Regions from separate parts of the Homo sapiens genome. Here region 2 is linked to region 1. The links come from fine-mapping of genetic effects on gene expression. A gene starts in region 1. The other region holds a variant in brackets. All regions are shown on one strand. Distances are from middle to middle. Region 1 holds the start of ANGPT2 (angiopoietin 2). Region 2 overlaps MCPH1 (microcephalin 1).

Region 1 (5,000 bases):
TGCTGCATACTTTTTAAGCTTAGCGTAATTATTCACACAGCTATGAATTTTAGAAGATGTTTAAAAGCAAACCACAGTGACCTGGGAAAGGAGGGAAACTTACTGGAGCGCTTAGCCAGGAGCTTAAAAAGACATTGCTAGTGAGTTTTATGTCACATGAAATCTACATTTGATAGGTCATTTTGGTAAGTTTTTGTTGTTTTAAATGACTCCTCTTGACACAGTAACCAGTGGTGCTGGGAACATTCATTCACATTCATTCATTTAAGCTCATGACTCAAATAATAACTTAGTCGTTTCCTCTCTGAAGGTAGGGGAGGTAATGAGGAGCACCGATTAGGCTCCAAGATCCGTTCTGAGATTCAGATAAGGTGTCCTAACAAAAGGTTTATGGTGAAATGAAAGAGTGAGAAAATAATTGTGCTTTTTCTAGGGTCATGCGTCAAATGAGGCTCACCAACTTTTAAAAGACTTTACATAGCTTTAGATAATCACATTCCCTGCCATGTAAGCATTGTGATGTAATGGCATCATCATGCTACTTAACAATTAATTTATGCATTTTGTTTAAACTTCCTTTAGAATATATATAGTCCATATAAAGAAAATTCCAGGTTCGTTTTGGATTTTGTATAAATAGCTCCCATGTTTACATGTGAAAAAAAATTATTTATGAAAGAAAAACAGAGCTTTCAATATCCTATTTTGGTTACGTCTCCATAAAAACTCTAGGAAACAGTGGGATCATCTGTGAAACAGTGGAATCACCCCAAGAACAAACTGTCAGACAGACCGTCCTGTCGTGGCATGACTTGAACATAACCGTCCCACGTGGGGACGCATTCCGCACCGGTTGCTGGAACTGACGGGGGCTGCAGTGCTGAATACCTCTGGGACGCTTGGGAACTGTGCCCCTGTTTACAGACGGCAAGCCCTTAGTGGTAGGGCCCTGAGATTCTGAGAAACATAAGGTCTGCTTTATTTAATTTCCTCTCGTTTACCAAGAGTCACAACCTATTTTAGTAAATAAATTCAGGAAATTGGTAAAGCACTTTACTCCATCCGTTATGCCTCGGTCATCAGCATGGTTGTCACGGTCTCTCTGGCTCACGGGCTGCTGCGGCTCACAGCCTTCCCTCACTTGCCTGCAACCAGCTGAGAGCCTCCCTGGTGATGGGTGTTACTGAGCTTAAACGATGTAAACAAACAGAACGGCACACAAGTTGTGCAGGGAAGTATATTTCCTCTACCTTGTTAATAAAGATTTCTAACTTTAGAGATTTTCTGTATTGACTCTGGCATTCTTTCCAAATAATTATTTTCACCCCGGGGACTACCCACACACCCTGGGATAGAATAAAAGAAATTATCTTTCATTTGAGGGTACCAGCAACCCGCTCTCCAGCTCTAATCCTCTTCATCCTCCTTCTTTTTTTTTTTTTTTTTTTGGTTGTTAAAACCTGAGCTGCTGCCAAGCTGATCTTAATAGCATGTTCACAAAGACAGATGGATTTTTTTCCTACCTTCATTAGCCACTGAGTGTTGTTTTCCATGATGTTCTCCAGCACTTGCAGCCTCTGCACCGAGTCATCGTATTCGAGCGGCGCGTCCCTCTGCACAGCATTGGACACGTAGGGGCTGGAGGAAGAGCGGCAGTTGTCCATCTCTGGCAGGAGGAAAGTGTAGCTGCAGGACCCATGCTGGACCTGATATTGCTTCTTTCCTATGCTGTCCATGCTCTTCCGAAAGTTGTTATAGGCTGCGGCCAAGACAAGATCACAGCTCAGAGTAAAGAAAACAATCTGCCACATTCTTTCTTCAGTAATAAACCAGCAGCTTAGCAAACTTGAGGGCAAACACACGTCCAGAGTCCCGAGCTGCTGCCGTCTAAAACGCAGGGCTGCTACGCTGCCATGGCTGGGTCCGTCAATGAAAGTCTTCTCTTTCCTCTTTTTCCAGTAGCAAACCTGGTTTTTACTGCTGTGTTCTCTCCAGGCATGCAGTAAACTGTCAGATTGCAGTGGGAAGAACAGTCCTGCTCACTTGGGAGGGCTGTGTCAGCTTTTACAGAGCAGCTTTCACGGTCCTTTGTTCCTCTCTCCCCAGATCCTACAGTGTCAGTATCCGAATCAATCACTTTCCTTTCCTTATATGATAAGTTGATAAGAGCAGCCAGACATGTGTAGTGGGCTGCTCCGCCCTCCTGGCTTAGCCGTTATCTTCCTGTAGGGGGTCACTAGCCAGGCAACAGGAAAAATCAGAGCAGAATGCCTGCCCTCCAACCAGGACCCATGCTGCAGAAACCCTCTGGGAAAAACCGATCTGTTACAGGACCCCTGGGCATTTCCTAGGCACCACCCCAATTAAGTATTTCCTAGAGAGAGCAGTTGATCTCTTTTGTCTGAAACTGATTTTTGCCGTGCTAAGCTGGCAAAATATCTGAGGTAATAACTTTAATGTTGAAGTACAATGAAAGTTCCTGTTTTTTCCTTTAGGAATAAAAATATTACAAATAGGTCAGGACTTCGGTTTATTTTTGTTATTACAAATAAAGAGGAAGAAGTTTGGCTCCTGTAAACGTGTGCCTTTTCAGAGGGAAAAATAGATTCATTGATTTTAGTTGATTCTTGAACCACTAGCCAAGTTACAAAAGATTTTCATTTCCGAACAGTTGGATAGAAAGATCTGTTATTAAGTCACGTTAGAAACATCAGTTTCTGAGCTCTGACCTTTATTCTTTAAAAAAACTCCACTTGGATATTCACTCTAAAAATACACTGTACTGATTAAGTTCATTACATTACAATAGAGAAATTAGAATTTAAGTGCCTGTGTAGAAAGAGGAATACAAACTTTTTTTTTTTTTTTTTTTTTTTGAGACGGAGTCTCGCTCTGTCGACCAGGCTAGAGTGCAGTGGGGCAATGTTGGCTCACTGCAACCTCCGCCTTCCGGGTTCAAGTGATTCTCTTGCCTCAGGCTCCTGAGCAGCTGGGATTACAGGCAAACGCCACCACACCCGGCTAATTTTTGTATTTTTAGTAGAGACAGGGTTTCACCATGTTAGGCTGGTCTCAAACTCATGACCTTGTGATCGACTCGCCTTTGGCCTCCCAAAGTGCTGAGATTACAGGTGTGAGTCACCATGCCTGGCCCACAAACTTCTTTATTGTGTCAGAATTTGTTGACATCTCAGCATTTTGTAACACATTATCAATTACATTAGTCCCCCTTGGTATTAGACTCGGGCAAGTCACTTCCCTGTTTTAATTAAGCTCTAATGTCCTCATCTGTGCAATTCAAGGGGTGCACTCACAAGATTTTTCACCTTCAATCCTATGGCTCTGTAAGTTCTGCAAGTCACTTCCTTTAACAACTAAAACTTAATACTTCAGAGATTAATAATATGTTAACTCAGCAGCCCAAGTGTACATAGGGAAAAAGCCCCCTGCCTTTGCTGCGGTTTATCTCTCAAGGTACAAGGTTTATTATTCCCAGTGAGCGCTGAATAGCTGGTACACTGACTTAACAGACCACATCTACCCATAAAAGATCTTTATTTTTTACTAAGCTCTAACCGAAAGACAGCCTTTCCCTTATCAATGAATAGTTAACGAACAACAGTGTGAATATCTGTGACTTTCTCATCCTCAGAAATCAGCTCTTTTTATTTGCTGCCACAATACTCAGAACTACATTTTTATTAAACCCAGCCCTAGATCTTGCTACTGAACATTGGAATAAAGTAGCATGTGTCTTCTTTTGAGAAGGTGTTTATAGGCTTCACCAGACAACCAAAGGGTTCTGTCACACAGAAAAGCTGGAAGACATGCTCTGGAAGGATCTCATTAGTAGAAGAGGTAGTATGATTCCACCAAGGTTCTGGACATGGTTTCCACTAAGGGAACCAATTAAAGATGCTATACCCATCCGGACAGTGCACCGTCGAAGAAAGCATATAGGTCTTAAAGATGAGACCTGTGTTAGAACCCTGCTTCTGTGTGACCTCCAGCAAATGCTTCCATTCTTGGAGCCTCAGTCTCCCTAGTCATAAGATGGAGATCATTTTTTCTCTGTAGGGTTTTTAGGATTAAGATATAATTGTATGTTTAGAAATATTTGTTCCTTTTCTTTACAGGCATGCTCCATTAAATGGGGATCAGTTCTTCCACCATCAAATAGTATAACTCTGCTATTCTCTGAATGCAAAGCAGTGGCAGTGGCATAGGGTACAATTTTTTTATTTCCTGTTTGAAAAAGCATATTGTAAGGTATTAATATCACATATGTGGTTTTACCTTTTTTCAAGATTATTTTTTGTAGAGACGGGGTCTCACTCTTGTTGCCCAGGCTGGTCTTGAACTCCTGGCATCCAATGATCCTCTTGCTTGGCCTCCCAAAGTGCTGGGATCACAGGTGTGAGCCACTGTACCTGGCCTGCATATATGGTTTTAAAAGTCATTCAGTTGTCTTCCAGGCAAATAGAGTAGTTTAAAAGGAACAAATAGAAAGAGGGCACACCACAGTACTTTTTGTCTACCAGCCTTGTGTCAGACACCATGCTATGCACTGGGGATAGAGATTAAGGCAACTGGGTGTCTGACCTAAAGAAGCTAATAGTGTATGGAGAGGGAGAGACCCATAAACAAATTGGATGTGGTAAGAGAGAGCAGTCGGAGCACAAAGAAAGACAGTGATGCTTCCGGGTGCACAATATGCCATGTGCAGCTGGCATGGACTCCATCCTTTTCAAATTCCCTCAAGTTCCGAACATGGAAGGAACAGCTCTTTGTAGATTCCTAAATGGAAATTATCGGAACCAGAGAGTCAGGGGAAGCTCTAGTAGAGCCGGAGTTGGCAAACTCTGTCCAGTGTCAGATGGTAATTATTTTCGGCTCTGCAGGCTATACGGCCACCATCGCCACCACTCAAAGGTAATGCGGTGCAAAGCAGCTGTGGGACAGCATTAACTGAGTGAGCGTGCTGGGCTCCAATAAAGCTT
Region 2 (5,000 bases), 70 kb before region 1:
TACAATTAAAGTATTTCTGAGAAGTCAGAGTGCTTTGCAATGTTTGGTGAATAATTTACACAATTCCAGAATAATGTCTCACTTATGGAGAATACACCTACCACTTACTTCGATAAACAGAAGTAGAGTCTATGGTTTCTTTCTTTTTTTTTTTTTTTTTAGCTGCTAAAGATTATTATTAGGACAGAAGGACAATTAGCTTTAAAAGCATTGCTCAGAACATGTATTTTTTTTTCTAGTATTCTTTTTTTTTTATTATACTTTAAGTTCTAGGGTACATGTGCACAACATGCAGGTTTGTTACATATGTATGCATGTGCCATGCTGGTGTGCTGCACTCATTAACTCGTCATTTAGCATTAGGTATATCTCCTAATGCTATCCCTCCCCACTCCCCCGACCCCACAACAGGCCCTGGTGTGTGATGTTCCCCTTCCTGTGTCCATGTCTTCTCATTGTTCAATTCCCACCTATGAGTGAGAACATGCGGTGTTTGGTTTTTTTGTCCTTGTGATAGTTTGCTGAGAATGATGGTTTCCAGCTTCATCCATGTCCCTACAAAGGACATGAACTCATCATATTTTATGGCTGCATAGTAGTCCATGGTGTATATGTGCCACATTTTCTTAATCCAGTCTATCATTGTTGGACATTTGGGTTGGTTCCAAGTCTTTGCTATTGTAAATAGTGCCACAGTAAACACACGTGTGCATGTGTCTTTATAGCAGCATGATTTATAGTCCTTTGGGTATATACCCAGTAATGGGATGGCTGGATCAAATGGTATTTCTAGTTCTAGATCCCTGAGGAATCGCCACACTGACTTCCACAATGGTTGAACTAGTTTACAGTCCCACTAGCAATGTAAAAGTGTTCCTATTTCTCCACATCCTCTCCAGCACCTGTTGTTTCCTGACTTTTTAATGATCGCCATTCTAACTGGTGTGTGATGGTATCTCATTGTGGTTTTAATTTGCATTTCTCTGATGGCCAGTGATGATGCGCATGTTTTCATGTGTCTGTTGGCTGCATAAATGTCTTCTTTTGAGAAGTGTCTGTTCATATCCTTCGCCCACTTGTTGATGGGGTTGTTTTTTTCTTGTAAATTTGTTAGAGTTCTTTGTAGATTCTGGATATTAGCCCTTTGTCAGATGAGTAGATTGCAAAAATTTTCTCACATTCTGTAGGTTGCCTGTTCACTCTGATGGTAGTTTCTTTTGCTGTGCAGAAGCTCTTTAGTTTAATTAGATCCCATTTATCAATTTTGGCTTTTGTTGCCATTGCATTTGGTGTTTTAGACATGAAGTCCTTGTCCATGCCTGTGTCCTGAATATTATTGCCAAGGTTTTCTATGCTATAGAAATAGCATATTTCTATGCTATTCATCATTAATAACAATTATTTAATAATATTAATATTAAATAGTTAATATTAAATTTTTAGAATATTAAAATTTAAAATTTTTTTAAAAATAAATATTTTATATTAAATTATCAAATAAATATTAATAATAATTATTTAATATTATAAAATTAATAATCTTTCATTATTGAATTATTGATTGAGTTAAGTAATTAATTGATTAACTGATAAGGATTATTGTTAAATTATTGTACTCTTGGGTAGTACAGAGACTGCATACTGCGCTTTGCCATGTAAATACTATTGTCTACTTCCTGGTACGTGGCTCTAGGGAGGCTATGGCAGAGTCAAGTGCTTTTGCCCTTAATGTGAACAAAAAATAGTGATTGCTCTTAGTAGCCATAATATTTGGTTTATTGTCTGTGTTGGTAATAATTTCTGCTGTGTTTTCATACAGTGAAGTGATGTTTCTGCTGTTTATTTTAGTTGCATTGGAATTTGTTATATTTATTTCTTTGTTTTCCTTTTGATAAGAGAAGTACGCACTTAGTTATTTATAAAGATGTTTGGACTTCACATGTGAGTACAGTGGTGACATGCTGGGTTTTCCTGGTCATTGCTTAGCTGTATTTATAAAGTGAATATTACTGAGCAGTTAAGCCTTAACATCGAGAATCACCCATTTTCATTTTTGAAAACTGGAAAGGATTAGGTAGAATGCAAGGAGAATAAATTGAACTTAAATGTTTGTGTTCAATTGAGGTGAGCTTTTTCATAAGAATATTCAAGCCTAGGTCAACATGCAGCTTGTTTTCCCTCTCACCACCTGGAATTCAGTCTCTATCGGTCAATGTCTTCTAAAAGGGAAATGGGTTCTTAACTATATACTTTTAGTACTTTATTGCTTATCTTCCCTTTCTTGGTTGAATAGGCTGTGTTAGATATTTAGCTTCCTGCCCCTTTCTTTATGAGACAGCTAGAGCAGTGCTTTTCAAAACCTTACTAATGTGTGGATCACCTGGGGGATCTTACTGAAGTGCAGATCCTGGTTCAGTGGGTCTGGGTCTGCTCAGGCTTGAGGTGAGGTCCACGCTGCTAGTCCTGTGACCCAGCATTAGGTCCCCAGGATACAAAATATGACCGGGGATCTCTGTCGTATTCGGGGGTGGAGATGAGACAGCGTCCCAATGATGTTAGTCACATGGAACATTTAGAGATGCGGAGCTACTTTGTCAGTGTTTTACACATCGTCAAGCTGTTAGTCAAGACAGTAATCCTCTGTGGAAACTGTGGCTTGAACACTTTCAGTAAATTGCTCATGGTCATAGTGCTTGGAAATAGTAAATTTTTTTTTTTTTTCTTTGAGACAGAGTTTCGCTCTGTTGCCCAGGCTGGAGTGCAGTGGCACGATCTTGGCTCACTGCAACATCTGTCTCCCAGGCTCAAGCAATTCTTGTGCCTCAGCCTCTTGAGTAGCTGGGATTACAGGTGCATGCCACCACACCTGGCTAATTTTTATTTTTTGTAGAGACAGAGTTTCACCGTGTTGTCCAGGCTGGTCTCAAACTCCTGACCTCAAGTGATCCGC[C/T]GACCTTGGCCTCCCAAGGAACTGGGATTACAGATGTGAGCCACTGCATCCTGCCAGAAATGGTGAATTTTGAATTTGAATTCAGCTCTTCCTCAATTCATAGCCCACATTCTTTCTAGCATCTACTTCCAAAGATAGCCTAGAGAGTATTTTTTATCTTCTATAGCTGTAAACCTTGATATGGGCATTCTCTGATGGCCTGTGTGTTTTGAAAAGATTAATGGATAAGGCAGTGGATTTCACTGCTAACCTTGCTACACCGTAGCTGTGTAACCTTGGGTAAGGCAGTTTCTTTATCTGTAAAAGAATGGAAAGATCACCTAAATAAAGTACTCAGTAAACACTCAATAAATATTAAATATCGTTATTATTCAACAAGCATTTTTGACGCTGATCACTAGCCTTCATTAAAAGTATAACTTGGATGAACGTTGAACACACCGAGTGAAAGGAGCCAGACACAAAAAGCACATGTTGTATAATTCCTTTCAGACAGTATATCCAGAATAGGTAAATCCATAGAATAGAAAACTAATTAGAAGTTACCAGGGATGGAGGGGAGAGAGGGATGGGGAGTGATTACTTAACAGGTACAGGATGTTTTTCTGGGGTGATGAAAGCATTTTGAAACTAGAAAGAGGAGCTGGTTGCACAGCATCATGATATAAAATGCCATTGAATTGCACACTTTAAAATGGTTAATTGTATATTATGCCAATTTCACCTCACTTAAAAAAAGTCATATATGGAAAATAGCTTTAAGGCACCACTACAACTACTAAATAGGTTTGTATTTTTAAAAGAACTTTATGGAATTATAGGAAGCATTTCTTGATGTTATGAGATGTGTTGGAAATACAGAAGAATAGCTTATTTTGGAACAGATATTATTGGCTTGAAATTTTGCCAGTTCAAGCTGGTCTCTTTGGAAGACTAGACCTTTATTTTCTGGCTTGAAAATGCTTTGGACATAAGTACCCTATTATTTTGTTGTTAAAAATTATACTATTGACATCCCCAATTTTTTCTCCTGAAGTTCAGTATAACCTAGAAATAACTTCATTGCTACACTATTTCATTAACTACATGGGTGCTTTTTTAGTTAATAATGATGCATAATGTCTTCATGTGGCAGAAACACTAACCTGCCCCTTGTCATAAATCTGTAAAAAGATGGACATTGGTTTAAACCCAGTTGTTGAATTCTGTGCTTTTAACCAGTATGTTACACTGTCTAGTTGGGGAAGAATCCCAAATCTTCTTCTTTCTTTAGAAAAATCCAAAACAGCATACAAACTAGCAAACTCTCATAAATGTTGTTTGAGAAAATCAATTGCCCTAACTACTAAGACAAAGGATCTATAAAATCTGATGAGAACAATCTTTGTAATTTGATTTTTATAATTTTGTCAGCTTAAATTAGTAAAAAGTTAATAATTATTACTTTTGTTACGCTTATAATAAATAATGTGTTTCTACACCTTCCATAAACACCTACAACCACACTTTTTACCACAGTTGGTGGAGTGAAGGGTGGATGGAGGAGATAGTGGCAAAAACACCCCAATCACTTTCAGTGATTAAAGTAAAGATGTGTCTAACTTTACTCCTAAAGTATCATCCAGTAAAGCGGAATGTAAAACATACTTTTGAACTGTTTGAAATCAACTACATTCCTATGGCTTACGACTGTGGGACAAGTTTCTAACTATCAGATTTGATTTTTAATTAATCAGTGATATTTTATACCAGCAGTCTCCAACCTTTTTGGCACCAAGGACCAGTTTTGTGAAAGACAATTTTTCCAGGGACTTGGGGGTTGGGAGGGTGAGGGAGGAATGGTTTTGGGATGATTCAAGCACATTACACTTATTGTACACTTTATTTCTATTATTATTACATTGTAATATATAATGAAGTAATTATACAACTCACTGTAATGTAAAATCAGTGGGAGCCCTGAGCTTGTTTTCTGCAACTAGACAGTCCCATCGGGGGGTGACGAGAGACAGTGACAGATCATCAGGCGTTAGATTCTCATAAGGAGCAT

The links. PIP is the estimated chance that this variant, and not a neighbour inherited with it, causes the effect.
Region 2: its variant is the best candidate, but not a certain one, in a credible set for the expression of ANGPT2 in tibial artery (GTEx, PIP 0.51).

The regions. Positions count from the first base shown.
Region 1 is chr8:6,561,124-6,566,123 of GRCh38, forward strand. ANGPT2 (angiopoietin 2) reads right to left here and starts at 2,122. Exons shown (of 9, transcript NM_001118887.2): 1 at 1,524-2,122. The coding sequence starts at 1,811. The region is part of intron 12 of MCPH1 (microcephalin 1); the gene reads left to right. RefSeq lists a silencer at 1-79 and enhancers at 939-1,464, 1,465-1,991.
Region 2 is chr8:6,491,234-6,496,233 of GRCh38, forward strand. All of the region lies in intron 11 of MCPH1 (microcephalin 1), which reads left to right. Among named protein-coding and RNA genes, the nearest start is that of ANGPT2, 70 kb to the right of the region's middle. The variant C/T (reference allele first, on the strand shown) is at 2,951.